Regions from separate parts of the Homo sapiens genome. Here all the other regions are reported to be linked to region 3. The links are microRNA targets in miRTarBase. Many come from high-throughput screens and were not tested one by one. Region 3 holds a microRNA gene; each other region holds the end of a gene's coding sequence.

What was found. Region 3 holds the annotated microRNA hsa-miR-122-5p (UGGAGUGUGACAAUGGUGUUUG, at 2,775-2,796, shown strand). A microRNA usually pairs through its seed, bases 2 to 8, with sites in the 3' UTR of a target mRNA and lowers its output. Matches are read on the target gene's strand: a 7mer-m8 pairs with bases 2 to 8, a 7mer-A1 pairs with bases 2 to 7 and ends in A, and an 8mer does both.
Region 1: miRTarBase lists TIGD6 as a target of hsa-miR-122-5p. The part of its 3' UTR that is shown has no 7-base or 8-base seed match.
Region 2: the mRNA of CLIC4 is a reported target of hsa-miR-122-5p. Seed matches in the 3' UTR shown: 7mer-m8 at 3,032-3,038 and 8mer at 2,951-2,958.
Region 4: miRTarBase lists TECPR1 as a target of hsa-miR-122-5p. Seed matches in the 3' UTR shown: 7mer-m8 at 2,534-2,540 and 7mer-A1 at 1,944-1,950.
Region 5: miRTarBase lists FLG2 as a target of hsa-miR-122-5p. Seed matches in the 3' UTR shown: 7mer-A1 at 2,621-2,627.
Region 6: miRTarBase lists DNAJC18 as a target of hsa-miR-122-5p. Seed matches in the 3' UTR shown: 8mer at 1,801-1,808, 7mer-A1 at 1,507-1,513, 7mer-A1 at 1,502-1,508 and 7mer-A1 at 15-21.
Region 7: the mRNA of SYNPO2L is a reported target of hsa-miR-122-5p. Seed matches in the 3' UTR shown: 7mer-A1 at 2,361-2,367.

Annotation. Positions count from the first base shown.
Region 1 is chr5:149,992,170-149,995,169 of GRCh38, forward strand. It overlaps TIGD6 (tigger transposable element derived 6), which reads right to left. Exons shown (of 2, transcript NM_030953.4): 2 at 949-3,000. The coding sequence ends at 2,614. Among named protein-coding and RNA genes, the nearest start is that of TIGD6, 7.0 kb to the right of the region's middle.
Region 2 is chr1:24,839,656-24,844,138 of GRCh38, reverse strand. CLIC4 (chloride intracellular channel 4) reads right to left here. Exons shown (of 6, transcript NM_013943.3): 5 at 4,098-4,279; 6 at 1-3,366. The coding sequence ends at 3,202. Among named protein-coding and RNA genes, the nearest start is that of MIR6731, 78 kb to the left of the region's middle.
Region 3 is chr18:58,448,314-58,452,796 of GRCh38, forward strand. It overlaps MIR122 (microRNA 122), which reads left to right and starts at 2,761; the gene lies at 2,761-2,845. MIR122HG (MIR122 host gene) reads left to right here. Exons shown (of 3, transcript NR_170245.1): 2 at 996-1,227; 3 at 2,506-2,968. It overlaps MIR3591 (microRNA 3591), which reads right to left and starts at 2,839; the gene lies at 2,767-2,839.
Region 4 is chr7:98,214,661-98,218,998 of GRCh38, forward strand. TECPR1 (tectonin beta-propeller repeat containing 1) reads right to left here. Exons shown (of 26, transcript NM_015395.3): 24 at 3,276-3,382; 25 at 3,032-3,151; 26 at 1-2,843. The coding sequence ends at 2,730. It overlaps BHLHA15 (basic helix-loop-helix family member a15), which reads left to right. Exons shown (of 2, transcript NM_177455.4): 2 at 1-797. Among named protein-coding and RNA genes, the nearest start is that of BHLHA15, 5.4 kb to the left of the region's middle. RefSeq lists an enhancer at 3,626-3,685.
Region 5 is chr1:152,347,338-152,351,820 of GRCh38, reverse strand. FLG2 (filaggrin 2) reads left to right here. Exons shown (of 3, transcript NM_001014342.3): 3 at 1-3,086. The coding sequence ends at 1,211. The region is part of intron 7 of CCDST (cervical cancer associated DHX9 suppressive transcript); the gene reads right to left. Among named protein-coding and RNA genes, the nearest start is that of FLG2, 10 kb to the left of the region's middle.
Region 6 is chr5:139,410,802-139,415,284 of GRCh38, forward strand. It overlaps DNAJC18 (DnaJ heat shock protein family (Hsp40) member C18), which reads right to left. Exons shown (of 8, transcript NM_152686.4): 8 at 1-3,471. The coding sequence ends at 3,347. Among named protein-coding and RNA genes, the nearest start is that of SPATA24, 9.0 kb to the left of the region's middle.
Region 7 is chr10:73,643,512-73,647,994 of GRCh38, forward strand. SYNPO2L (synaptopodin 2 like) reads right to left here. Exons shown (of 4, transcript NM_001114133.3): 4 at 1,375-4,483. The coding sequence ends at 3,207. Among named protein-coding and RNA genes, the nearest start is that of MYOZ1, 4.3 kb to the left of the region's middle. RefSeq lists enhancers at 587-636, 4,200-4,483.

The DNA of each region.
Region 1 (3,000 bases), not on the chromosome of region 3:
GTTCAACTATAAATAGTATATATTCTATATACTTATCAAATTACATTATATATAATTCATTATCAAAGAACAGAGATTATAACCTGGATTGGAATTATATTTGAGGCAACTATATTCATGGAAAAATTTTGCAAACCCTTTTAAATGGAATAAAACCCTACCTTATCTCCAAGCCATTTCTAGTAGAATCAATGCTTAATACAGCTTTAAAAATAAGGTGGCTTCAACACATTGTACGTGTCTATCAATTTATACACAAATGTTTTTTGAAGTGCCTACGATGTGTCCAGCACAGTCCTAGGCACCATTAAGATTATAAAGGTTGACTGATCCCTGCTGTCATGGAACTTACAGTCTAAAGAGCCAGAGAACATCTAGAAAACATCTAAGTATTTGAGTGGTACAGACAAGAAGTTTGGAGAAGATGAGGGGAAAACAGGTGGAGTAGTTGCTGGAGTCTCCAAGAAAGCCTGGAAGAAAGAGGATTCCAGTTAGTTCCTGAATGTGTAGGGCCTAGCTTAGTAGAAAACAGGATGAGGCATTTGGGCAAGGCACACAGGCAGAAGTCGGTATGCAGTAAAAGAAAACAATGGCCTCTTCAGGGAGCATTATGTACACAGAATTGTATCGAGCTAACAAGTTGGAAATGCAGGTTGTAGTCAACTATAGAGGATACTAAAACTCAGCTGAATAGTTTTTTTTGTAGGCATTTGAAAGCCACTACAGACACTTGGGCAGGGGAAATGGTGTGATGCCAATAGATCAAACAATATGTGCAGAATGGACTGCAGGAGAAAGGTGAGGGAAGGAATTAGATACTGTGGCAGTAATCCTGACACGAGAGGATGATGACAGCAATTAAGGAGCTGACAAAGAAATACAACCACAGGACTTAGCCAGAAGAGTTTGCCTCTCCCACATGTTAAGAATTTAAAATATGTACAGTACTTTTAATTCAAATGATCATATTAGTTTATTAAAAGAAAAAATATCCAAAATAAGCTATAAAATAATCTATTTAAACATCTGCTGTTTTTCAGTGATTGTTTTGTTAATGTGGAAGCAACATTTTCTATGATTAATCTGCTGTTACCTGTTTTGACTGAGCTACTACAAAAAGAAAAATCACTGAATTGCTATGGGTTTCTGAAATATCCAAAAAATTAACCTGAAGCAGGGGGAAAAATGACATCACACCATTAGCAGGTATTGTGTGAAACTTCTAAAAATGAAACTGACATTTATCTGACTTATTAGGAATAAATACTCTCTAATGAACTCTCTAATGATCCTCTCACCCTTTCTGGAAAGTGAGAGGCACGCTGGGCTGTATGTTCTCCCCCATGATTCTGATTAACAGGATGCTCTATTATTATAACCTCCCTCCCTGGTTGTATCCATGTCTTATTAATTTTTTTTTTTTTAGAGATGGGGGTCTCGCTGTGTTGGCCAGTCTGGTCTCAAACTCCTTGCCTCAAGTGATCTTCCCAATGTGCTGGGATTACAGGCATGAGCCACCATGCCCAGCCTATGTCTTAAATGCACTGTATTTCCTTGTACTCCAGATCCCTATTAGTGAAATGCCTATTAAAACATTTCGTAAGGCCAGCATGGCAGTGTGCATCAGTAGTCCCATCTATTTGGGAGGATGGCTTGAGGCCAGGAGTTAGAGAGAGTAGTGTGTTATAATCATGCCTGTGAATAACCACTGCATTCCAGCCTAGGCAATATAACAAGACCCCATCTTTAAAAACAAACAAACAAACAAACGAACGAACAAACAGAAGTCTTGTAGTGCTTCCAGCAAATCAGCAGAAAGGAAAAAAGAGCTCTAGAGTAAGAACAGTTGATTCTTTTTTTAACAATTAGTGATGGGGGAGTATTCAGATGGCCAGCTAAAGAGAGAAGTTCTAGAACTCAGCTAGACCAGTATATTGCTTTATTTAAATTGGCTCAATATCCTATCTAAAGCTAGACCAGTGGTTTTCAAAGCATGGAGCCTGGACTGCATCAGCTGAGAATGTGTTAGAAATGCAAATTTTTGGGTCCCACCTGAGGTCTACTGTATCAAACTCTGGGGGTGGGCCTAGCAGCCTTGGGTTTTAACAAGCCTTCCAAGTGATTCTGATGTAAGCTAAATTTGGAAGCCCCTGAGATACACTTACTGGAAAGAAGCTGGACCCAGGCCCACAGTGTACTTGATGTTCCTGTGGTTGGTTCAGTTTTCAAATTTGTCTGCACATTGGAATCACCTGGAGAGCTTCAAAACTACCAATGCCTGTGACCCGTCACCAAAGATTGTGATTTAATAGGCCTGGGATATGGCCTGAGCTTTGGAATTTTTAAAGGATTCTCAAGTGATCCTAATTTGCAGACAAGTTTGGAAACCCTTGGATGAATCAAAATACATCTTGAATCAAGGACCAGAGACAGCCAAAAACAAAAGAAAAGAAAACACACATATTAGTCAAATTCCATTCAAAGAAGTTTCCTGGCTATTTCAGAGTACTGGAATGTTGTCACAATAACATTGCTTTACTTAAATTGGCTCAACAACCTATCTAAAGAAATCTTTATTCTTGTAAACTACATTTTCTGAAATAAATTCCTGCATTATTTTGTTTGGAGGAAATCTGTAATTTTGGAATCAATAAGGGTTTGTGTCACTCTTTTCATTAAATATTCATCTATGCCATTTAATTGTCCAAAAATGGCATCAGGAATGTCTACACAAGTGGAAAGGAACTGTCTAAGTTTCTGTACACTTGATATGGCTTCTGTGATGGTGACTTTTGGTTGCTCTGGTAAAGATACCTCCCCTTCATCTTCACTTCCTGCTTCACTGGTATTTTCGCCAGCCACCATGTCCTGGATGATGTCTGTGTCCTGAGAGATAATGAGATCATCATCTGCAGTAACAAAGTCCTGGAAATTTACTTCATTTGGGACACAGGTGGCAATAGCCACTGTGTGCCACAACTTTTCAATGGCAATGTCTGG
Region 2 (4,483 bases), not on the chromosome of region 3:
AAGAAAATACTCCAATTCTGTTCAACATTACGGCTTGAGGAGTTGAAATTTTTCCATGATAAAAATATACTTTGTGTGGCCCAAACCTTGACTATTTATAAAGGATGGAGTTTTTAAAAGCCCACATGTATCAATAATGGATGCTCCCCTCTCTTTGAATTAAATGCTTAAATTCAAATTAATGCAAGAAATTGGTGAATCATTAAATGATGAAATTTGTATCAAAATGTTCATGAAAAAATACATTTCTATTTCCTCTACATTTTTACTTTGTAGTTATTTTCTAAATGGGTTTAAGGGCACAGAAATAAATGCTATCTACATGCAACTCTGGAGAGATTCAAAACACAACAGAAGTTAACATGCCTAAATCCTAGAGTTGATCCATTTAGTGTAAGAATAAATGTCAGAAATCTCTTAATTGTATACAGATTGCTCAAGGATTTAAAGATAAATTGTGAAAGCCAAAATTACCAAGAAATAAAATCTTATTTGAATTTTATCACAAAAGTTTACAGTCCTAGTAAAAGACAACAGAACTGTATAGAATATCTGCATCTACATCAAAAAAGGGAAGTTTTATCAACTAGAATAGAGAGCTTTCCAACTGCTGAATACAAAAATTTCTCAGAATCTCTTGGAAAACAGATCCATTCAGACTCCAATCTCCTCACTGAAGTAAAACACAAAAGGTGTTTAAATGAAGGGGAATGGATGTTAGTTGTAAAAATAAAATCAGATTATTTCCATTATGGCAATTCATATACTGCATGAACTGTCTACCATGAAAACTTTATGTCCCAAATTTCTCAAGATGTTAAACTATGCTCTTTCCACAAACATACAATGGGGTTAAAGCATGTTGCTGGGTCGTCCTTTTTACTAGCTAGCTTTTGTCCATTTACCAATTTCCATTTCATTTGACTAACTTCCCTGATAAAGTGGTATCTGTGTTTCTACAGAGAAAAATAATTCTGTCTTCATCAAAATCACAATAGACATGCCTTCCTAGAACATTTAGAGGGATGGCCAGGTGTAATCACTGGTTTAATAAAAACAGGAGAATATCCAAAATGAAAATATTTGAGTTTCAAAATGAATTTTCATCACTGTATTCTGAAGAATGTAGTTCTTTCCTCTTGTTAGCCCTCCACCTCGCACCACTCAGTCCACCATTCACTGGAAAGAACAAACCTCACTGCTCTTGAATCTTTTTTATACTTTAAGCTATGAGGCAAGGTTCAGAATCACCAGAATGAATCCCAAGTTGCCACTATTTAAAAAGTAGGTGAAGAATGATAATGCCTGCCTGTGTACTGGTGCAGATGGGACATTTTCACCCACTAAAACCACTGCAAAATAATTTCTCAATAGATAACTGAATAGTGCATCTTCCTTGAACCAGATAAATCATACAATATTTAATTACCAAAAAAAAACCAAGCGGGTACTCAAACTTTTGATAAGCAATAAAGAGTTCTAAGAAAGGTAAGGCAAAGAATCTTCCTGAGCCAAATGGATACAACATGGAGATTTTCTTATCTTTCATACTAAGCTAATTAATGATAGGCTCAAAAAATGCAGTATACTTATAAAAAGCCGCTTTCATAAAGCCAGTGCTTACTAAATGTTAGCATATCAAAGTGGGAGAAACACTGCCATTTTAAAGCAATAAACTTAAAATTTCAAGAAACAGCCTATGAGAAATAGCACTTCCTATACAAATTAGGTATAAAAAAATTACCAAAAATGTATTATAGTCACAATCACAGTCTTTGGAGTAGTACGTAGAAAGTCTGGTTTTGCTTTTGTCTTTTAAAAAAGAGTAAATACATAGCAAAGTTTTATTTTCAGCAAGTTCATCCTCCTGTTAGAACACAAATAATTCCTGGTTTAGGGCTTCAATTAAAAAAAACCCCGAAAAACAAAACAAAAACATGCAGAGTGCTATTCCTCAACATGGCTGTTGGAAAATTTAACTCCAGGAAGTGCAATGAGTGAGATCAGGCAAAACTACAGTAAATACACACTCACCATAACTATAACTTAGTCCCAAAGGAATGAACAATCCTCTATACAAGGTAAATGGGGTGAAATGAGAAAATTGGTGACCTGTGTTTTATCTTTCTTTTATATAGGATGGATAACGCATTCTTTAGGTCATCTACATTAAATGTACTTTAGAAACAAAAATTTACTTGATATTTTGACAAACCCACCCTTCATTCCTTAGGTTAATTTCTGTGTTAATTTTTACATTACTAATCATTGTACTGCTATAGCTAAGTCAACTAAAAATCAGTTATGTAGTGTTGCTCAACAGATGTACAAATAGCAAGCTCTATGATTACGTAAAAACAAGCTTTTTAAAATAAAGAATGCAATAAAGTTCCAAATGAATGGCACAGGGCAAAACACATATAACAAACGTATTTAGACAGAGTATCAGGTGCCCATCAGTTTCTCTTCTAAAGATAAAATGCTTGAGGAAGGTCTTGAGAAAACCCTCACTCCCTCTAAACTTTTAGCTTCTACATGGTGTCAGATGTTACAATTGGTATGAAGGATAAATGCTTTTAGGCAAAAGTAAAAATCTATCTACAAAGCAATATAGCAAAATCTGTAGTGACTTTTGTAGAAAGCTCTCTTCTCTGGTGGTAATATTCGTTAGTACATATCCAGGATAGACTAAATTGAAACAATATTTCTGATACAGTAGCAATCCTTTCATATACTCTTACTAAATATTACAAAATTCCAAAAAATACATAAATATTTCTTGTACCATGCATTATGCACCAGTTTGGGGCTGCCTGATAAAGTCGTGGCTACTATTTTTAACAATTAAACATTGCACCTCAAAAGTTCTGCCATCTATACACAGTGAATGGACACAATGGTGAGGGCTCCTGAGAGATGGCAAGCTACCTCTAAAGTGAAAAGTTTGTGGTGGAGTGTCTCCAAATTAAAGAGAGGGGAACCCGGGTAGGGGAGGTAGCCAGGGTAAAGGATTTTAAAATAATACTGCTTAGGAGTGTATATTTTAAGATAACTACTATACCTTGTCTATCCTTGATCCTAATCTTCAATAACTGCATGTTCGTGCAAAATACAATTTCTGCTCTACAGGAAGGAGTAGCCTGTTAGGAAAAGCGTATTCTTAGGGGAAGACATGAAGACATCTCTTTTACAAACGCGATTTTACTTGGTGAGTCTTTTGGCTACATCACTATATGCTATTTCAACCTCCTTATCACTGGGACAGGTATTGGTGAACTCGTCCCTACTGTATGCATTAGTTAGGTATCTCCAGATGCCAGTCATTTCTTTTGGAATATCAAAGTTGCGATATTTTTTGGCCACCACCTGAAATACAAAGAGATCAAAAGTTAACAGACTTATTTCCACGTCTTGTAAACTAGACATATCTCTGATTTTGGAGCAAATAATTAATGCTCTAAATCTTTGAGAACTGCTTCTATATGAAAAAAAGTCCATCACCATCATTCTAACCAGAGTTTTAAATAATGACCAAGACTGCAAGCTACACCAGGGATTTAGAAGTGTGACAGTGACTGCAAATAACTGCCTTGGACATCCAGAAAGACAGCCAAGTATAATCACTGGAAAATACTTCACAACACACATATGCTATTTTAGATCTGTTTTTGTTATCTTAGGTCTTTATTTACAACTAGCGCTTATTATTATTCTATTTAACAATGTGCCCAGCCCAGTGTCTCATATAATAAATGCTCAATACTTTTTGCCTTCAATAGAGAAAGCAAGGTGTGATCACAGAACAGAATTTGATAACATAAGTCAGTGTGGCAAACTCCAATTCAAAGTCACGCATTATATCTTTGAATTTGTATGCAGTCACAGAAAAAAAAATATTCATCTTTCTTATATTCCTCAATTTTAAGACATAATTTTCCATTTAACTAACTCTAGGGTGCTTCAACTATTGCCTAAACAGCATTGAGTTAAACAACTAGTCATATAAAATCAGAAATGTTTTGAGCACAAAGGAAATGCCACTTTAGTAAATACAATACAAGGTAATGGCAATGCGACATCAACCCCTACAGACCTACCTTGACAATATGCAGTTTGGGCAGCAGGTTGCAATCAGCTAATGTCATTTCATTGCCATCCAGAAATTTACGTGTAGAAAACTTTATGTCCTCCATACTATTTTCATCAATTTCATCAGGGAGAGGAGAATTCAGATATTCATCCAGTTTCTGCAGGGTTTTCAGGAGACCCCTCTCCAGTGCTTGGGGGGGAAAAAAAGAGATGAGAATACTGTAAGAAGGAAAACCACTCAAGTCCCCAAGGAGAAGCAGACTCTTTGAGTCAATAACTGTTTAAAAATGTTTACTCTGAAACAAGGTACTGTAGAACAAAACAGACAAGGCTCCTGCTCTCCTAGAGCTCAATTAGGTGGGGCAGGGGATGAAACAAGTTTGTTCAGGTAAAA
Region 3 (4,483 bases):
ATTGGATGACTTTTTTTTTTTAAAAAAAGAAAACCTTCTGCTTGTTTGTTTAAACTGCTTTGTAAATTGACAGTTTAACCACCTCTGCAGAAACAAAGTAGTAATAAAAGATGTTGGCCATTTTAGCAATGTTTAAAAATTGCTCACAAGACAGAAAATGATTGGCACTCAATATGTGTTTAGTGATTGATGCAATAATACCATAAAATTATTGTACTGCATAATAAAGTATTTCACTAATAATTTGCTAAAAAATTAGCCTGAGGCCTGCCACTCAGCACAGCACTAACTTTTCATGCTTGTGACAAGTTGTATATGAGCAGGATGGGTTCCAACCTTCCCAATTTCAGAAGAGTATTTTGCAAGAAGGAATTTGTATTGAGAGTCCAGAAAGAAAATTGCCTAAAAGTTTTTAAATCCTCATTTTTCTCAATAAAAAAGTGCCATATGAATCATAAATTAACAAATGCACACAAAAGGAGAAAATGAAAACAAACCATAATTTCTCTACTGAAAGATAACCATGGTTAACATTTGATGTTTTGGCCTCAGGCATGTATGCATTTTTTCACAGAAAGGGACTCATACTGTGTATATTGTTTTATAAACTGTTTTTTAATTCAATAACATATCTTGAATTTCCAAGTCTACCAGACTTTTCTACAGAATCAATTTAAATAATTATGGTCTATCATAAATATATTACTCTTCTCCTATAGCTGGACATTTAGGTTGTTTCCAATGTTTACCCTTATAAACAATGCCACTATGAGCAACCTTATAGGTAAATCTTTCTACAAATTTTTGACATTTTCCTGGAGATAGATTTCTGGGCCATAGAAATTGAGGTTGATTTGGGGTGGGGGGAGTTGGTAAGATTTACCTGTAAAGGTTGATTTGGGGGGTGGGGAGTTGGTAAGATTTACCTGTAATGCATTAACTTCCTCATCTCTTTTCATCTTCCATCTGTTCCTTCCCTTTTCTGTATTTTGCAGATTATTCAAAGCCAAAAGCCAACAGAGCCCCCATGGAGAAGTGGAGGATGCTCAGATACTGCTATGGAGCCCTGAGAAGTGAAATGGGTCCAAGCCCTTGCCCAGGATAGAGCGCTCCAAGCGCATCCTCCGGGGACCCTTTTAATCAGTGAATTGTTCACCTCTCACTGTTTCTTCCCAGCAGAGCTAAGAGACTTCTAGAGCCTCTTGTGGATGGTCAGCGATAGCCCTGGTATGACCAGGAGGTGGCGATTTCTGTTCTAGGTCCCTCAGCAAAGACTAAGCAGGACAAGCCTGGCTACTGTGTTAGGAGGAGCTGTAGGGAAAGGGAAGGACAAGATGGGCCACCACATGCCTGTGTCCACTGCTGGCCACACCCAGAGTGCTAGGGGTTTGTGGCAGTGACTGGGGCCACCTAGAGCAGTTCTAGGGTTCGTAGTCATTCTCTCTGAGTCATGGAAAACTGCCCAGGAGGCGAGTCCCACCTAAGAGAGTATGTGTAGCACTGGCACGGCCTGCTGCCTTGCAAATGACCACATTTCATGAAAGAAAGCCAGGGCCACAGACAGGAACCAAAGGAAATCAGTCACTTAGGGGAAGATAACGAATCCACAAAGTGAAAAAGGGAAAGAAAAAAAGAGGCAACTTCAACACTCCAACCCATGGGAGCAGAACGACTTTCAGCTTTCGCAGGGGGATAATCACTGCAAGTCCAGCTTGAAGAGGGTGATTTCAGGATCTACATGAGAATAAGGCGCAATTTTTTTTTTTTTTTTCTGAAAAATACGGAAGGGTTCATTTACAGCTGTTAAAGATGGGCCGGTTTTAGGGCTAAAGCAAGACTCTGGTCAGATGTTAACAACTCAGTTATCCTGGGGAAAAAATAACTGGCTCCCAACCCTTTCCCTTTTCAGCATTTGCAGGAAAAGAAGGAGTAGGTAAAATGCTTTATTTCCTCTCATTCTCCATGGTGGGCAGGAGTTCACATAACAATTATAAACCATCTTTAACAGGAAAGCCAAGTAAATCCTGTAGGGATTTATTTGGAGCTCCCTTTTTGCTAGAAAATGAGTATCATGAACTAAAAATGGACTCGTTTCCTCTCTCTCCATCTTCCTCTCTTTCTTCTCTCCCCTCATCTCCCACCCACCGCCATGGTGGAAAATGACTGTGGTCAAGAAGATTGAACATTTGAGCAAGACCAGATGCCTTTATATCCAATAGATGCCACGGAGAGTAGATCACAACACATCTAACTGCTGTATCCCCATATAAAATAATTTTAATTTTCCTAGACTGCAGAATTGATCACATTTACTGATGATGGATTGGGAAGTAGGTGAAGAGGTGAGAGTTGGAGAGTATCCATTCATTCGGCCAGATTATTCTCATTTATAATGTAGTCTTCCAATAAGTATTTATTTCCAGAAATCTATTCCCTCTAGAGATTCTTTCTCTCTCAGCCATTTTAGAAAATTGTTGCAAACAGAGTTCCTGTCCATTTTCACAGGAAGTTTTTGCAGAAGGGGTTTGCTGGGTGGCAGTGGAACACAGGCAGTGGACCCCTCTACTACTCTACTGTTCCAGAACACAGAAGCCTTTCATTGAGAGTGTTCAGCTCTTCCCATTGCTCAAGATGCTTGTACCCGTGATGCTTCTTTTCTCTGCTTAGGTCACAATATGTGGAGCTGACAAGGTTCCCCTATTATCAGTGACAATGGTGGAATGTGGAGGTGAAGTTAACACCTTCGTGGCTACAGAGTTTCCTTAGCAGAGCTGTGGAGTGTGACAATGGTGTTTGTGTCTAAACTATCAAACGCCATTATCACACTAAATAGCTACTGCTAGGCAATCCTTCCCTCGATAAATGTCTTGGCATCGTTTGCTTTGAGCAAGAAGGTTCATCTGATATCAGTCTTCTCAATCTTGTGTACTTACTGAATAAAGTCTGGCTCTTTTGCACTCATAACCAATATGGTTAGCTGAACCCTGCCTCTCACATGCTGTTGTTACATACCTTAGCTGGTGATTAATTTTCTTGTTTTCCCAAGTCAATAAAAAGATTGCAGACCAGGCACGGTGGCTCACGCCTGAAATCCCAGCACTTTGGGAGGCCAAGGCAGGCGGATCACTTGAGCTCAGGAGTTCAAGTCCAGCCTGGGCAGCATGGTGAAACCGTGTCTCTACAAAAACTACAAAAATTAGCCAGGCATGGTGGCATGTGCCTGTAATCTCAGCTACTTGAGAGGCTGAGGTGGGAGGATCAATTGAGCCCACGAGGTTGAGGCTGTAGTGAGCTGTGATGGTACCACTGCACTCCAGCCTGTGTGACAGAGCAAGATCCTGTCTCAAAAAATGAAAATAAAAAGATTGCAGAGTTCCTCAGAGCCCCCAACACAAGGCCAGGCACGAGGTAATCATTTAACCCATGCTTATAGACTTAAAATGAATAGTTAGGAAAGTGTTAGACGCAGAAGGCTAAGACTGGGCTAAATCTATGTTATGCAGACAGACCGCAAGCTTATAGGTACAAAATTAAGGTGTGTGGGTCCTTCTCTTTTCGTCGTTAAAAAATCCAACTTTCTAATAAACTTACACATGGTTTCACTGACGTTTCAGAAATTCTAGAATATGTTTGATTTCTACTGATTTCAATCAATTACTAGGCTGATTACTGAATTCGTACACTAGGCCTTTCTTCCTCTTGCATCAGTGAATTACCATCAGAAAATTGTTTATGAAGCATGTGTGAGCTGCCATAGCAAATCTGGGACCCATGCAGTTTCTAGGACAGTTGGCCCAGCCAGGTGCTCTGGTTTGGAACCCATTCTGTCTCTGAGAGGTGTCTAAAGTCAGGAGTAGGTTTCGTTTGTGCCAGACTAAAGCTTCCCTCCCCAGGCTTGGTTAAATGAAGTAGGACATGTTTAATCAAATAGACAGGGTTAGATCAACCATCAGAAACAAATTCAACCATTCAACCATTCACTTATGAAATAAATATGTGTAGAGACTACCGTGTGCCTGACACTGTCCTAGGCATTGAAGACACTTTTAAATTAAATGTGTCTGATGTTATTTCCAGAGATGGGCATTCACTGGCTCGCATTATATTTTGGGACCATTGTAATTGTTCCAAACGGGAGCCAAATGAGCAAAACTTTGCGAAATAATTCTGAGTCCCTTGCTGGAAAGCCTCACCTGAATGCAGCCCACACATTTATGATACACTACAAAGGCTTCAAGGTCATGAGATGCCTCTGTCCAAAGAAGAAGAAGAGCACCCCTGCCTGCCCTGCATCTCTTACCACCTCTCATTTCTTCCCTCCTGGCACCATCTACTGTCAAGAAGAGAATCAGACTCCCTGAAATAATTGAGACACTGACATTCCTTTTTGTGTGTATTTTTTTGGCAAAGGCTCTAATTGAACAGGCATTAATAGAGGGCTCTACTGTTATACAGATCACGCTCATGCACACTGTATTAGTCT
Region 4 (4,338 bases), not on the chromosome of region 3:
TGAATGGACCGACGAGCTGAGCCTGAAAGCCCAGAAGAGCCTCGGTCCAGAAGACGGAGACTCGGCCCGGTGTCCAGCGCAGCCCAGGGCTTCCTGGGGGGCAGCAGGAGTGCCTGGGGGTCACCGCCTTCAGGACAATGGCCTCAGTGGCTCTTTCTTTCTGCCCTGAACTGGCACCTGCACCTCCTCTGCTTCCTAGAGGGTGACCTGGGCCGAGCCGCCCAGTCCTTCTTCCCCTGAGGCCAGAGGGGACGCCCCGCGGCCACATCACACAGGATCCTCAGCAGCCATAGTCTCGCTTCAGGGTGTCCAGTGTTTCGAGGAGGAGAGGGGACAGGGGCCAGGTCCACTCCCTTGGCCCTCCTCTTGGACCCCAAGGCCAGGCCGGATCCTTTTATCCCGTGGGGAGCCCCTGCCTCGGCCATCGGGATGAGGTCCCTCAAGTCCCTGCACAAGCAGGTCAGAGACCCACCCACATGCCGTTCCTGGGCTACGCCACGCGCCATCCCCCGGGGCTGTGGACGCACCCAGCCCCCGACAGACAGGCGCCCTGAGAGCTCCGAAGGCGCGATCCCCATCCCCACCAGTGGAGAAGCCAGAACCGCGATTGTTGCATCTGGGAAAACCCAGCTGGAGCCGAACGGCCCGTGCCCCCACTGTAATTGTGCTGAAAATGTTTCTCAAATGACCCAAATTGGCTCTTATTTTTTCTAATGGCCCTTTCAAAGTATTCATGAAATTGATGCTGTGTCATAAAACAAAAATAAAAGATTTCACAGCAATGTCTGCTTCAGGCACACGGGGAACCACGCGTTTTAATCAACGTATCGATAAAAAACACCAGGGCACGGACACTCCAGGGGAAATGCTTATTGAGTAAAGTATCCGAGGAAGTGATGCAGGGCAGGTAAACAGCTGGTGCTCAGCAGCGAGAGGACGCGTCACTCTGCCGTTCTGCAGGGTGACGCCCTCCCCGTACCTCGCTGAGAGCCACCTGCAGACACAGCAGGCCACAGCAGAATGCACAGGTCACTGTTGTAGGGGAACAAATCGTAATGCCCAGAGAAAACCTGATAGTGAAATGTAAACAGACAGGACAGGGTGGTTCCAGGTGGCCACCACCGCCAGGCCCTTCCCGTGATTGATCTGAGAGCTTCACAGCCGGCGGCACTGGGACCCATTTCCAGAAACACTGGAACACCAGGTCTCTCAGATGCCCGCGGGAGGGGCCCCAGGGAGGCCTTTCTCAGCATCAGCTTTTGGGTGACAAACCCCATACAGCAAAACTGTACAAATACACACAACGGACCCCCAGCTGACAGTGAGACCAGGACCCTAGGAAGGTCAGGTGGTGGTGAAGTCATCCCCTCTCCAACCGAGCAGAGCCTGGGGTTGGGCTCTGATGACCTCCCGGGCAAAGTGTCCAGGTGGAGGAAGCAAACTCCCAAATGGGGCACAGAGGTAATAAAAAGCAGCTGAGAGACTGCGGGATGGGGTCGGGGCCACTTGGCCGACACCTTCTGCCTCGCCTGGCCGGGCCGGGCCAGCCTCTCGCCACAGGATGGAGGGTGACTGTGCACCCTGCTCCATGTACAGGACGGGCTGAGGGTCCCATGGCCACTGCCGACAGACACAGTAGTACTGCTCCCCACAGAAGCCCGCAGTCTGCACCCTCCTACAACATGATTTGACATCCAAGAAGCCCCTGTCACCAGCGCATCTGGGGAAGGGGCCGAATGGGGGTTGATGATGGTGACTGCACACACGGACACTGCCTCCAGCCATGGGGCAGCCTCTCATCCTCTCCCAGCCTCCCGTCTGGTACCCCGGCCCCCTCAGGGAAGAGGACATCCCATCCACTCCAGTGTTATTTCCAATCTGCTGTCTCCTTCCTTCACTTTTTTTTTTTTTTTTTTTTGAGATGGAGTCTCTGTCGCCCAGGCTGGAGTGCAGTGGCATGATCTCGGCTCACTGCAGCCTCCGCCTCCCGGGTTCAAACGATTCTCCTGCCTCAGCCTCCCGAGTAGCTGGGATTACAGGCACCCACCACCATGCCCAGCTAATTTTTTTTTTTTTGTATTTTTAGCAGAGATGGGGTTTCACCATGTTGGCCCGTCTGGTTTGAAACTCTTGACCTAGGTGATCTGCCCACCTCAGCCTCCCAAAGTGCTGGGATTACAGGCGTGAGCCACGGCGCCTGGCCTCCTTCCTTCACTTTTGAAATTAAAGCCTCTTTGCAAGTCCTGCTCTGAGAAATGGTCACTGCACATGGTAAAGAGGCCCTGAGCCCCATGGCCATCTCTCTTGGTGAGGGGTGGCGGGCCCGGGTGCTGTCTGAGATGCCAGCTCAGGAGGGCTCCATCCTGGCTCTGCTGCCCCAGGGCCGGCGTTCCCGGAGGGCTCCAGGTTCCCGGTTCTAGTCCTGGAAAGGCAGAAGGGAGAGGGGAAGGGAAGGGTGGGAGGGGCCTCTGGGAGGTGCAGCCCCACCCCATGCCCCACACCCCGGGACTCCTCGCAGACGGGGACACGTGTGGGAGTGTCCGCGGAGCTTCACATTTCAGGGCCGTCTCAGCCAGTGCCTCTGAAGTGGCCGCAGCCTTGGGGCCAGGTTCCCTCCTGAGTCCACCTGGGCCACATTGCTCCCACGGTGCACACTCCAGCACAAGAATGGCTCAGCCTTGATCCCCCAAACTGGGCACCGTCCCTGCATGTAGGTGTGTGGGGGGGCCTCAGCAGCAGACGGGGCCATGGGCCTCTGGTGGGGCACTCGGCTCCTGCTCCTGGGACGAGCTCCGGGGGGCCCTGGTGGCATTGGCCCGGACAGAGATATGGTCCCAGCCTCCCTGGAAGGAGAGAGCTGTGTCACCAGGGGACTCGGGGACTCGAGGATCCTGGAGGGGATCTGCCTGGGGGCCTCCCTGCAACCCAGACACCGGGTCCCAGGGGACAGTCCCACAGTGGTCGTCCCGTCTTCAGCACCCAGTGCAGGCACAAGGTGATAACACAGCCCAAGGCCGCGGGCCCCGCTCACCCCGATGCCGTAGTCCCAGCCGTGGCCCTTGGGCTCGTGAGGCTGCACGCCGGTGCGATGACACACTGTCCCCCGGCTCAGGCTGTGGCTGCCCTGCACTTTGTTGGCGATCACCCAGACCTGGAGCACAGACCCCATGAAGCCCTCAGCCCTACCTGCAGTGGGACGGCTGGGCATGGGATGGGGGAGACCAGAGAGGGAACCAGAGCACCCCAAGTGCCCGATACCCCCTGAGCACCCCCACCTGGTCCAGGGGCCCCACGGACACTCGGCACACGTTGTTGGACACGTGCTCCCAGCTGGAGCCCTGCGGGTAGCTGGGCGTGATCCCTTGGCGATACCACAGGTTTCCTGGGGAGAAAAGCAGTGAGGGTCAAAGGGGAAGACCTTCCCGGCCCCTCCTGCCCGTGCGGCCCGGCAGCCGGTGGCCAGGCCCCGCTCTAACCACTTCGGGGTTTGGGAAGCTGCTGGGGAGGCAGGAGGGTCCTGGCCCCTGAGTCAGGGCCACAGCCTCCTCCGCTTCTCCACACTCAGGAGCCTGGGCTGCAGCCAGCTCCGCCTTCTGCACACTCGGGGCGTCCCCCGAGCCTCATAATCGCCCTATTGTGCTGGGCACGGCCGGCCTCCTGATCCTCTTTCTGCTGAGGCAGAAACTATGGACAAGGGAAGTCCTAGCCAGAGCAATCAGGCAAGAGAAAGAAAGAAAGGGCATCCAAATCGAAAAAGAGGAAGTCACGGTGTGTCTGTTTGCCCATGATAGGATCAAATACCTAGAAAACCCTAAAGACGCCTCCAAAAGACTCCTAGATTTGACATATGAGTTCAGGAAAGTCTCAGGTTACAAAATCAATGCACACAAATTAGTAGCACTGCTACATGCCAGCAGCAACCAGGCTGAGAATCAAATTAACCCCTTTTACAACAGCTGCAAAAAATAACATAAAATACCTGGGAATGTACTTAACCAAGGAGGTGAAAGATCTCTATAAGGAGAACTACAAAACACTGCTGAAAGAAATCATAGATGACAGAAACAAATGGAAATACATCCCATATTCATGGATTGATGAGTATGGGATGAATCAGTGGAAGAATCAATATCATGAAAATGATCATACTGCCCAAAGCAATCTACAGATTCAATGCAATTCCTATTAAAATACTGTCATCATTTTTTACAGAATTAGAAAAAAAAATCCTAAAATTAATATGGAACCCACAAAGAGCCTCAATGCCCAAAGCAATTCTAACCAAAAAGAACAAATCTGGAGGCATCACATTACTGGACTTCAAATTATACTACAAGC
Region 5 (4,483 bases), not on the chromosome of region 3:
CAGTTCATGAGAGACACGGAACTACTCATGGACAAACAGCAGATACCACTAGACATGGCCACTCTGGTCATGGACAGTCCACACAGAGAGGGTCCAGGACAACTGGAAGAAGGGCATCTGGCCACAGTGAGTACAGTGACAGTGAAGGGCACTCAGGGGTCTCACACACACATTCAGGACACGCTCATGGCCAAGCCGGATCTCAACATGGAGAGTCAGGATCCTCAGTTCATGAGAGACACGGAACTACTCATGGACAGACAGGAGATACCACTAGACATGCTCACTCTGGTCATGGACAGTCCACACAGAGAGGGTCAAGGACAGCTGGAAGAAGGGGATCTGGCCACAGTGAGTCCAGTGACAGTGAAGTGCACTCAGGGGTCTCACACACACATTCAGGACACACTTATGGCCAAGCCAGATCTCAACATGGAGAGTCAGGATCTGCCATTCACGGGAGACAGGGAACTATACATGGACAGACAGGAGATACCACTAGACATGGCCAGTCTGGTCATGGACAGTCCACACAGACAGGTTCCAGGACAACTGGAAGACAAAGATCTAGTCACAGTGAGTCCAGTGATAGTGAAGTGCACTCAGAGGCCTCACCCACACATTCAGGACACACTCACAGCCAAGCCGGATCTCGACATGGACAGTCAGGATCCTCAGGTCATGGGAGACAGGGAACTACTCATGGACAGACAGGAGATACCACTAGACATGCCCACTATGGTTATGGACAATCCACACAGAGAGGGTCCAGGACAACTGGAAGAAGGGGATCTGGCCACAGTGAGTCCAGTGACAGTGAAGTGCACTCATGGGGCTCACACACACATTCAGGACACATTCAGGGCCAAGCTGGATCTCAACAAAGACAGCCAGGATCCACAGTTCATGGGAGACTGGAAACTACTCATGGACAGACAGGAGATACCACTAGACATGGCCATTCTGGTTATGGACAATCCACACAGACAGGTTCCAGATCTAGTAGAGCAAGTCATTTTCAGTCACATAGTAGTGAAAGGCAAAGGCATGGATCAAGTCAGGTTTGGAAACATGGCAGCTATGGACCTGCAGAATATGACTATGGGCACACTGGGTATGGGCCTTCTGGTGGCAGCAGAAAAAGCATCAGTAATTCTCACCTTTCATGGTCAACAGACAGCACTGCAAACAAGCAACTGTCTAGACATTGACAGTTATTTTCTAGTTCTGACCTTATAGTATCCAAAGCAACTAAAAGAACAGGAAGACACAGTTTAAATCATGAACAGTCAATGGTAAGTTATGAACATTCAGTTGATTCTCAGTATCAGTCTCGACCTATTATTATAAGAAGTCAGGAATCTAGTCATGGACATTCTATAGTAACTCATAAACAGTCAAACAACACCTATGTTCAACCTGGATATAACACAGCCAGAAGGGAGGGATGTACACATAGCCAGTCAAATGACCACCTTGGATTTGGCCATGGACAATCCATATCAGTTCATGGCCATTCAAAATCTAGTTCAATCAGAAAACAGGAATCCCATACTGATAACAAAAAGCATTCAGAAGATTGGGAGAAAGACACTCATGAGCAATTAGGATCTAGGCATGGGAAGTTAGAGTTCAATACAATAGGTATACATGGATCTAGCCAGCAACATTTCGGAGATACAACTTTTCATGGGCAGGTAAGATCCAGCACAGGTTTTGCCAGATAGGTATTAAGTCATGGGCCATCAAGAGATGCCTAGGGTCAGTCTGGATTCAGTACCAATGAAAGACAAGTATACAGCCATGGCCAATCAAATGATAGTTATGAGTAGTCAAATGACAGCAAAAGTCAAAGATACATTTTCAGTCACTTTCTTGACAGCCAAGACCCTGCAGGAATTGAAGAGTATAGGTATAGATATTCATCAAGCAGTGCAACCATATGCAGTGGGGGAGACAAAGGCAAGAGTCAGAGTCAAGTCTGTCAGGAGGTATCAGAATATACGGTGAGGATGTGGGCAAAAAACAAAGAGGCTCTGAGGCCAGCGGTTACCATACAAAGGAAAGAACAGGCTCTGGTTCCTTCTGCTTAGATAGCAACACCCCACTCTATGAATATGTCCAAGAACAAAGGAGTTATTACTTTGAATAAGAAGCCAACATAAACTAGCCCAAGATAAGAACTAACCCAGAGAAGAAATGAGACACATACATGAAATTAAGGTATTTAACATGATCTCCTCTTTTGGTAGTAAGGGTATATGTCTGTTCTTTCATTTTAACTATAGTTCTGTACTATATTACTTTTGTTTGGTGCCAGGTGTTTTTGTAAGGCTCCACATTCATTGAACTCCTTGGTTAGAAAATAGTGAATGAGGCCGGGCGCGGTGGCTCACGCCTGTAATCCCAGCACTTTGGGAGGCCAAGATGGGTGGATCACGAAGTCAGGAGTTCGAGACCAGCCTGGCCAACATAGTGAAATCCCGTCTCTACTAAAAATACAAAAATTAGCTGGGTGCAGTAGCGGGCACCTGTAATCCTAGCTACTCAGGAGGCTGAGGCAGGAGAATTGGTTGAACCCGGGAGGCAGAGGTTGCAGTGAGCCGAGATCGCACCACTGCACTCCAGCCTGGGTGACTGAGCAAGACTCCACCTTGAAAAAAAGAAAGAAAGAAAATAGTGAATGGAAGAAAAAGATAAACACCATTTGGGGCTATATTCAGAACTATATAATAAAGAGAGATTTGTGTGGTTGGGAATAAAATTAGGTTTTAAAAAAATTTCCGAATTTCAAAATTTGGATTTTCCAGATTTTGTTTTAATTAATTATTGACAAACCTATCCAAGGAGCTAAATGACGTGGTTTAGGAGCCAAAACGTCTCTAGAAACATTATAACACATCCCATCCTGAACAAAGAATGTTGTCATAGTTTCCCACATGAATATTCAGAATATTTGCATCTTTTTGTGTCACTACTGGAATTCTGTACAATTATATTTAAATTTATTGTCATGGCCTTCTGGATATAGGATCCAGAAAATTGTACTTCATAAAAATTGGCAATAAACATTTCATCAAGTTATAGTTTCTCTTCTCTTTCATCTCCACAAACACATAGTTTCCTGCCATGGGATCAGATGCAGTTTTCTTCCACCTCCACACAGCTAGATGGCAGTGAAGCACTCAGGTACTAATAATAAGGACTCCAAAGAAGACAAAACTCAACCATATCTGATCTTTTCCTCAATCTAATCGCTGTCCAATGCTTCTGTAAAGCATTTACAGAAAGGCTTTATACTGATGAGTTGACCTCAGATGTTCTGGTTAATCATGATCATCACAGCAATTATTATCAAACATAATCCCAAGAAGCTACTTTCTAAGACAACCCAAGCTCTGGAAATAAGAATTATACACCATGGATTTTCTCTGTCAAAGATATTAATGGAAGAATCACTATCAATAGAAGCTAATTGGGTCCAGAGGTTTCCAGTAGAAGAAAAACAGTTAAAAATATATTATTCCTGCCTATAAGGAGAAAATACATGAATTTATTATGAATAGTGAGAGAAGTAATGATGAGTAGAAGAATTATGTACAAAATGCACTATCCTCAGTAGAAAGTTTACTACTATAAAACCCAAAGAAAATGTGCAGACTGTCAGAACTAGTAAGAACTTTAAAGATTACTTCCTTAATTTGGAAGTTAAAATAAAAAAGCCAAGCACACCGCATTTAATTAAAAGAGTGATAATTCTCACCATTAAATTTGGTGCTATCCAAATTTATCCTCTTTTCACTCAAAAATCAAGCTACTTTTCCTCCACCTTCACTTTTGGAATTCAAACTAAACTGAAATTCATCAGTGAGTGTTCAAAATCACAAGTCCCTATTAGAAGCAGAAGTTACATGAAAACAACAACAACAACAAACAGGCTCATTCTTCTGATTAGACTCAGAATATATCTATCTAATCTAGTTTTTAAATTGTAATATTAAGAAGGACTTGTACTTTATGAACTTTAAATCGTACTATGTAATCAACATAACACTAGTCTGTTAGTTTGCTAGTGAAAAAGCTACTGTTATACTATTAATGATACTCAGCAAAATTACTGTGTATATAGGAGTTAACGCTAGTAACCAATTCATACCAATCTATCTATCACCATTTATTCACTGAATATAAATACTAATTATCAAAGAACAATTAGAAATTTAAATTTGATATTTAATCTCTTTCTATTATAGATAAAGTAAGTCTATACCTATAATAAAAAGAGAAATCCATAGATTTTTATCCTACCTCTGCACAGCTAGATGGCAGTAAAGTAAATCTATGGATTTACTTTATTTACAATAGAAGAGATTAACTTGCTAATTGGAAGTGCTGCTATGACCAAGGTATAGGTTTCTGATTCTCAAGCCAAAGCTCTCTCTCGTGTCAGGGCGTCTGCACTCATTCCATACATCTGTAATTC
Region 6 (4,483 bases), not on the chromosome of region 3:
TCTGTCACCCAGGCTGGAGTGCAATGATGTGATCTCAGCTTACTGCAACCTCTGCCTCCCAGGCTCAAGAGATTCTTCTGCCTCAGCCTCCTGAGGAGCTGGGATTACAGACACGTGCTACCATGCCCGCCTAATTTTTGTATTTTTAGTACAGACAGGGTTTCACCATGTTGGCCAGGCTGGTCTGGAACTCCTGACCTCAAATGATCTGCCTGCCTCAGCCTTTCAAAGTGCTGGGATTACAGGCATGAGCTACTGGGCCTGGCCAGTTCACTGTATTTTCGAACAATTTCCAACAGAAAGCACAGCAGTGACGTTTCCTTACTGGTCACTGCTCCCGTGCTGTGAGGCCTGGAGCTGATCAAGGAAGCTTACACATTTCCCGGCCTGAGCAGATGAACTCTAGGGTTGCTAATCTGGGGACGTGGGTTCCTTCAAGCTCTTTGTGATGAGAAGGATTTTCATCCTCCTTTTCTCACTGCCGATCGTGCGGTAGAGAGAGCATCTTCATTTGAATGAGAGCTTCAGTTTCTGCTTGAGCCTCAAGCCCTATTTCTGAGCGCTGCTCCTCTCACACACGTCTCCAATCTGCAGTAATGCTCAAAGAAACAGTCTAGAGCTGGGTGCCAAGCTCCGGCAGCAAGAATAAGCCCTACCTAGTTATGTATGATCAGGAGATCTTCCAAAGGACGTAGGCGAGAGGAAAAAGCTTATTTTACCACCATGCAGACAACCCATCTAAAATATAACCCAGGAAATTATAGCTTCACAATATTCTGGATAGTATCAAATAGATAAATCCTTCAACCAAAAGCAAATACGGTTCCCTTGAGGAAAAACAGATGTGAATGTTGTGGTCTATTGGCAATAAATAAAACAGTACCATCGGTGCTATAAAAACAGACAATCAGCGTGACATTTAATGGAGTTAGTTATTATTGCTTCTATTTAGTATCATCACAGATTACTTATCGCTGCCATGAAGTCCATAAAATGTGTGACTACCTGATTCCTGGGCATCTAGGACAGGGTCTTTTAACCTGTCAAGTCAGTTTCATTATGGCCAATTTTCTAGCAGTGGTTGGGGATGGGGAGAGGAGAGCTTTGATTTTTTTGTGTGTAGAAGAACTTTCCATAAGCCTGTTTGGCTCATGGACATATTTTACAATGTAACCTCCCTCAGTCACTCAGAGGGGATCAAGAAGGGCCCCCTAAAACCAGGAGGACAGATCTAGTTGGGCAGCAAAATCTGGCTATTTCTAGAAATGCTCCCTCTCCCTGCAACTGAGCAGTTGTCCCCTACAAGCCACTAAAGCCCCCAATCTTTACCTGTGAACCCATCTCCTGACTCTGTGGAATGCCTGCAGAGGCATGGTAGGGAACAACCGTTCAGATGTTGATGAGCCATGCTAGGCACGTCTGTGTAAATCATGGCCATGCATTGGGATGAAGAAACTTTACTTTGGAATCTGTTTAATGTAGACTCTTTTTTTTTTTGAGATGGAGTGGAGTGCAGTGGCGTGATTTCAGCTCACTGTAACCTCCACCTTGCAAGTTGCAGCGATTCTCATGCCTCAGCCTCCCGAGTAGCTGGGACTACAGGCATGTGCCACCACACCTGGCTAATTTTTGTATTATTAGTAGAGATGGGGTTTCACTGTGTTGGCCAGGCTGGTCTTGAACTCCTGACCTCAGGTGATCCACCTGCCACAGCCTCCCAAAGTGCTGGGATTACAGGCTTGAGCCAGTGCACCCGGCCGACTCTCTACCAGAAACTTTTCTTCCAATATGAAGGAAGCATGGAGTGTAGGCTACAGTCACTTAATGATCCTTCCAAGTTCAGAGTCATGATAATTCAGGCAGCTCAGCTCCACAGGAAGGCCCAGAACCACACAGCCCAGGCAGTGACTGAATTCTTCCTAGTCACCAGTGGAGGGCTGCCTGCCTGTGAGGGACCTCTTATTTTGTGTACAGAATTTATGTTAGACAGGGTCCTGCTTCCTAAAGAGCAGCAGGGATGTTGTCCTGAACAGATGCAAGATTGCCACAGAAAAGATGAGGGGTCATGGGGTTGGGGAGGACGGAGGCATCCTCGGGAAAGGTTCTGCTTTGCCAGTCTGGCTAGAATCACCTGAGACATGAGGATGCTCTCCCACTTTCTACTTGACACTCAGCCTACCGTCTTGCTCTGCCACTACAAGACCTGGGTCATCCTCTCTGGGCCAATGTTCTCATTCATAGAACCAGGGATAATACATCTACTTCAGAGTTGTGAGGAGGTTTAAGTAAGAAAATATGTGTGAGAGCCCCTGCTTTTATAGTAGGCACTCAATAAATGTTGAATGAATGAAAAATCATCTCAAATCACAAACTATAGGATACTGGGTTAAACAAAGTGGCTGCTGGGGCCAAAGCTAGACCCCCATATCCAAGGAGAGAGGATCTGTCTCCTCTATCTCTAGGCTTGAGCAAACAGCCTGGAGAGCTGGCAATGCCTCCTCCTGGGTCTGACCATCTGCCTCTGTGGGATGTAGGAACTCAGCCTAAGTGCGATGACACCAATGATGATACTGAGGGGAAATGACCGAAGGGACATTCTCTGGGTTCTATGATGGAGTAGGGAGGCTTCGTGGAGGAGATGAGGCTCGGTCTTGCATTATACCTTCGCCCTGGCCCCCGCCTCCAGATGCTGCTCAGTAGTTTTAATTTCTGGACTCTCTAAAGGAGAGAGGGTTAAGGAAATAAAGGAATCTCAAATTAGGCAGTTTGCTAATGCTACTAACTGAGCAGAGATTGGAATAATAGAAAACTATTGACTACAATAGTTTAAATTTCTCCATATTCCCCTAGAAAATGGAAAGCTGGGCAGGAACATGTTCCAAAGGCTAAATCTTGGCGGAGATGATGACTCTAATGAAGGGAGAGGTATAATTCTTGGTAGACAGTGTAAATAACTAATATTAAGCTTTGGCTAAGCCTAGGAATGCCTGGTTCTTAAGACTTCACTGAAGAAGGGAAGAAGGAAGAAAGCATGGATCTGCTCTGGGATGCCCTGAACTCCATTCACATAGGCAGGGTAGGCATGGAGCAGGGAGACGGAATCCAATGCCTTGCCATTAATTTAACTTAGATGAACTACTCCTGGTCCCTGGAGCCACTCCCCAGGAAGGATCCTGTGAAGACACATCTGGCTCTCGTGCCCATGCTCCTGCCACTCTGCCCAACCAACGAAGTTAGCAAATAGTAAAGTGTTCATCATTACCTAGTTTTGTATTATAAAATGGAATCAGGAACATAAATAGGAACAAGTAGCAAAACCCCAGCCCTGCGTAGGACCATTATCCTCTCAGCCACCTCTGCGTAGGCCAATGAGTTTGGAAAGTTTCTCACAGTTTTCAAGTTTCAGCGACTCTGCTTTCTGTTTCAATCGTTCATCTCTGTATAATCCTGCCAAATTTGTCAGCTCTGACTCTGAAAGATAAAAGAGGTAACCAATTCATCAAGAGCTGAACTCCTTTGTTTCATTTCAATGTTTCTGGAGTCAAAGCTCCTTTTACTTCATTTCAAGCTTTTTCTTACAATTAAATATAAGAAACATTTAGTCATTTATTCACAAAACACGTCTTAGGTACTAGACCAGGTGTGGAGGATTAAAGGGCACCTGTGACCCTGCAGTCCAACAGTATCTGTGCTCTCTTATAAAAGCACTGGACTTAGTTCTTACCAAGAAAACATTTGGCACCAGACTTAGGAAACCTGCGCATGTGCAGTGAGACCACCCTATAGCCTCCTACAAACGGGATTCCAACAGCAGCTGGGAGAGAATGGAGTCCAGTGGCCTATTCCTGTCATCTGAAACAGACAGCTGCTTTATTCTTCTCCTGCATTGCTGCATCATAACTCACATGTGCGAAGGCACACAGAGCCTACTGCTGCCGGGTGTGCGTCCACAGAAGGCCAGGGCACTACTGGCGCTGTTCATTCCCTCACCACACGTAGGGTCCCCAACTCAAAGGCCAAAGGCAGCTGGGCCTTTCTAAAAGTTGAATCATCTGGATCCGGTGACCTTTGTCTCCTTGACTAAATTAATTTCATTTTCTCTTTATGGTGGAGAAGGTCATTCTATTTTTAACCAGAATATAATCTCTGCTGTGTTTCCTGACTCAACAGTGGTTTGGTTGCCTCTATTTTTTATTCTTTTGTGAGGTTTCAGACATATTCAGGGAGGAATGCCTGAAGAGCACCTTTAGAGACGTATTGCGTATTAACAGGATGGCATGCTTGGATGTGGTGTGTGTTTCCTGAAAGCCTCCAACAGCAGGCAGCTACTCAATGTTTAAAGGACCAGACTTGTAAAAATGCTATTTTAATTGTTTTGAAATATGCCTATCTATTCTTAATCATCTTGCTGACAGATTTTGTTTTTCTTGGTGGAACGAAAGACACCTGTCTGATTAATCAGCAAACTGCCTGGAAACGGAAT
Region 7 (4,483 bases), not on the chromosome of region 3:
TTAGAGATGGGGGTCTCACTATGTTGCCCAGGCTGGACTTGAACACCTGGGCACAAGTGATCCTCCTACCTCAGCCTCTGAGTAGCTGGGACTACAGGCACGCACCAGGAAGTGGCTTTTGTAACTTCCTTTGTCCCCTTCTGAGCTCTTTACTCTTCCTGACCATGTCCTTTTTCCATCCTGTGGAGACCCTAAAAGGTATCCCCTCACAGTTGGCTTCTGCCCAGGCTAGTTATGCCTCCAGACCCCTCATCTTTTGTCCTCCTCCATCCCCTCCCAACCCAAGGAAGCAATTAGAAGATAAAATAGGCCGGGCGTGGTGGCTCATGCCTGTAATCACAGCACTTTGGGAGGCCGAGGTGGGTGGATCACTTGAGGTCAGGAGTTCAAGACCAGCCTGGCCAACATGGTGAAACCCAGTCTCTACTAAAAATACAAAAACTAGTCAGGCATGGCGGTGCGTGCCTGTAATCCCAGCTACTTGGGAGGCTGAGGCAGGAGAATCACTTGAACCCAGGAGGCAGAGGTTGCAGTGAGCTGAGATCGCACCACTGCACTCCAGCCTGAGCCACAGAGGGAGACTCCATCTCAAAAAAAAAGAAGAACTATAAATAGCTAAAGGTGACTTCATCATCACTACCACCCTCACCCTCAAAAACAAAAACAAACTGAAAGTTTGATCTCCTTCAACTGAGTACCCAAAACGACTGAGTGGGTGAAGACAGGCTATTTAACCTATGGTCTCTGAGATCTTTTTTTGGAATTCTAAGACAGTGCACTTGGAAGAGTCTGCGGCCTGGGTCTGATTATTGGCACAAATGTGCCCTCTGCTGGCAGAATCAGAGCAATGGCACTTTCCTTCTCTGAAGTCTAATTCTCACCTACCTCCAACGCCCTCCCTTCTTTAGTAGTCTCAATTCAGCTTTATTCTTCCCTCTCCCATCCCACCTTCCCCTCCAGCCCTCCAGCCATTGCTTTCTCTTCATTTACTTCCCAGAGACTGTTTAATATGGTTGCTTCCTCTAAGGAGCGAGGAAATGTTGATAGCAAAGGGCTCAGAGGGCCTTTCCAACTTCTCTGAGTTCTGTGAACTGAAGCCTTACCTAGAAAGTATGAGGCAAGGGAGGGAAAGGGGAGAACTTGGATGAAGACTGTGGGGAGAGGGAACCAAGAAGAGTGATGGAGGTGGCTAAATCAAAGCAGGACAGAATTTGTATAAAAGAGCAAAAGACCTGGGAACAAAGGGCAAAAGGATGAAAAATGGGAGGGCAGGAAAAGAGACAGATCAGAAATCAGATCAGGGGAATGGGTTAAAGAAGATTAAGGAGAGATCAGGATTTAGGAATAAAACTAGAAGATAACAGCAACAGAAGGTATGGGGCATAAATTTATTCTTGTGCACAAACCAAAGTATTGTGACTCACACCCAACAAGCAAAGGAAATTATCACTTTCCAGATTACACAGCAAACGTAGCTGGTGGTGGTCTTGGTGAGAAGGGAGTCCATACTAAGATTGGAGATCAGGACCTGAAGCTGAAAAGAAGCAATAGCTGGGGTTTTGAGGGATGGGGTGGGACTGAAAGGAGGTTTTGGCTCTGGGTATTTCCCTACTCTTTCCCAGGCAGTCATGGCAAGCTGCAGAAGACACACTGAAGAACAGACTCAAGGAAAATCACACAGACACCAACCGTTCTTTCAACACTCAGCACACACCCTCACACCTCCCTTCCACCATCATTCCCTTCCATTCTAACATTCTTCTCCCTCAAATTTTTTTCCAATCCCCCTCTCACACACGGTTGGTTTCTTGTTACTCAACTTTACCTTCTCCCAATATGGCATTGTCCCTCGCCACACTTCTGTCTGTGGCTCAATCACTTACACTCATTTCTGCCATGCTTCTGATTTTGGCCTCACTTGCCACACTCTGGCTCTCTTCTCCTTTCTCTCAAGCTCATGAGGCAATGAAGCCAATGATTTGTTCATTCTCGGAGGGAATTTTCTTTCTTTTTTTCATTTCCTGGGTACTGGGTTGCTCAGCACTGGCCTCTCAAGTTGCTAACTTTTTGAAATCCTGAGGTATAGAATTCTTTGTTCTATTCCTGGTCTAGCTGGTATAACTCAGCCCATGCAAACTGTCCTGGCCCTTCAGTCTTTTCATGCTCCATAACTTTCACAAGATGCTGTACACCTGCTACAGACATTGGTCTCTAAGGAGTTATTCTCTAGTGAATCTCTTTCTCCCACTCAACTCCATGTGGGGATATCTGACCCTTCTATCAGTACAACGATAAGACTCAGATTGGGTCTTTTGTTTGTTTGTTTGTTTTGAGACAGAGTCTCGCTCCGTCGCCCAGGCTGGAGTGCAGTGGCGCAATCTCAGCTCACTGCAAGCTCCGCCTTCCAGGTTCATGCCATTCTCCTGCCTCAGCCTCCCGAGTAGCTGGGACTACAGGCGCTCGCCACCACGCCCAGCTAATTTTTTGTATTTTTAGTGGAAATGGGGTTTCACCGTGTTAGCCAGGATGGTCTCGATCTCCTGACCTCGTGATCCGCCCGCCTCGGCCTCCCAAAGTGCTGGGATTACCGGCGTGAGCCACCGTGCCCGGCCTCAGATTGGGTCTTTATTTTGACCTCCCCTCTTATTCATGCCTTAGACGGAAGAGCACACACACACACACACACACACACACACACACACACACAGGCCTAGGTATATGCCAGTCAAGCTTGGGAAAGCAGAGTGGGGGGTGGGGGTGGCTTAGTGCAAACAGGGGTCAGTTCAGTCCCTTTGCTGTGTGCCTGGTGGTGAGCTTCTTGCCTGAAGTCCCAGTGGTCACTTCTGCTCTGTTTACTTCTCACTGAACATTAAAATGAGGCCCAGGGAGAAAAGCACAAATGTCAAGGAAGAGAGATCTGTGGAGGAATATGGGTGGAGAAGCCTGGAAATAAAGACAGAGATCCAGGAAAGGAAATGCAGAGACAAAGAGAGGCAAAGATACCAAAGCAGACATACTTGGTTGGAAAGCGGCAGGGAGGTAGAGAGTGAGGAGGAAGGTGGGGGAAGGGGACATCAACTTGGAAACCATCTCTGGCAGGAGGCAATTTAGCTTCCAGATGCGTGACAGGGGATGGGATAGGGTAGGAGAAGCAACTTTAGGAACTGGATGTTCCACCTCTCCTTGGTCCTGGGACCTGTGCCTGTTCACTGGTGCCCTGCCCCAGGCCTCCACACATGAGCTTGCAATCCTGTTCTGGTGGCTGAAAATCGGGGCCTGGCTACCTGGAAACCGCAGGAGCTGGGAGAAGCCCCAAGGCCCCTGGGAGCCTCTGGAGGAGGGGCTGGGCTAGGAACAGGGGCTGAGGCCAGTTCTGTTCTCCAGATGGGCTCATCCAGTGTAGTGGCTGCTCGGGGGGCAAGCACAGTGGGAGCCAGGGGTTCTGCAGTGGGCTGGGGTGCCGGAGTGGAAAACCGGCGAATCTCCTGGACTCGGGCAGTTTTGGGGGACCCTGAGGCGATAGGGCCAGGAGTCGGGGGAACCTCATCAAAACAGAACATGGCAGTTTTAAGTTGATAGGGCTGATGCCGCATAAAATCTAGAGCCTTGATGCCCTGCTTGGGTGTTGCCCGAGGCCCCTGGGATTGGGCCTTAGGGAGAGTTCGGGCCGCCTGGGGGAAAAAGGGAGAGAGCAGTGGGTTGTAAGCAATAGGAGGCGGGGCACGGATGTTGGGTGAATATTTCCAGGAAGGGGGCAGAGACGGGGTAGGAGAAGGACTTCTAGGCCGAGGGCCAAGACCAGGACCAGGTGTACCTTCCACCACATACCTGTCCGCACGGCTCTGCCGCTTAGCAAACAGCTCCCCACCCCTGCCCTGCAGCCTTGGTGGCTCAGGGATTCCAGCCGAAGAGGCTGCCCCATTCACGAGCCCATCAAGGAGCCCTCGAGATGGGGGCTTAGGAGCCACTGGGGGTGGAGTCTTAGGAGTCATAGGGGGCGGGGTCTTGGGAGCCATTGGAGGGGGGGTCTTAGGTGTCACGTGAGGCAGGGTCTTGTAACTCCTGGCCCCTACTGGCTGCATGAAGTTGCAGGCTTCAGCCCCGAGGCTCAGAGCATCTTCTTCAGGACCAGATTCTGCACCCCCGGCCCGAGGCTTTTCATCCAGGTTCTGTACCAGCGATAGCAGCTCGGGGTTGGGCGAGTTCTTCGTCTCCTCCTTTCCCGGCCGGAACATCTGCTTCCGGGTCCCCCGGCGCCGGGCCTCCTGCAGGATACCCGTGCGGGCAGCTGGCACAGAGATGCGCTGCTCGCGAGCGCTGGGGGGCTCAGGAGCCCCTGGGCCTGGGGCAGGCGCCTCTGGGCGCGCAGAGGGTCGCAAAGGCGCAGATAGGAAGATAGAAGCGGTGGAGGTCATGGCAGCTGCGCTAGGAGGAGCGGGGGGCTCTGGAGCTCCACCTGGGGTGACAGGCCGACTAGGGGCTG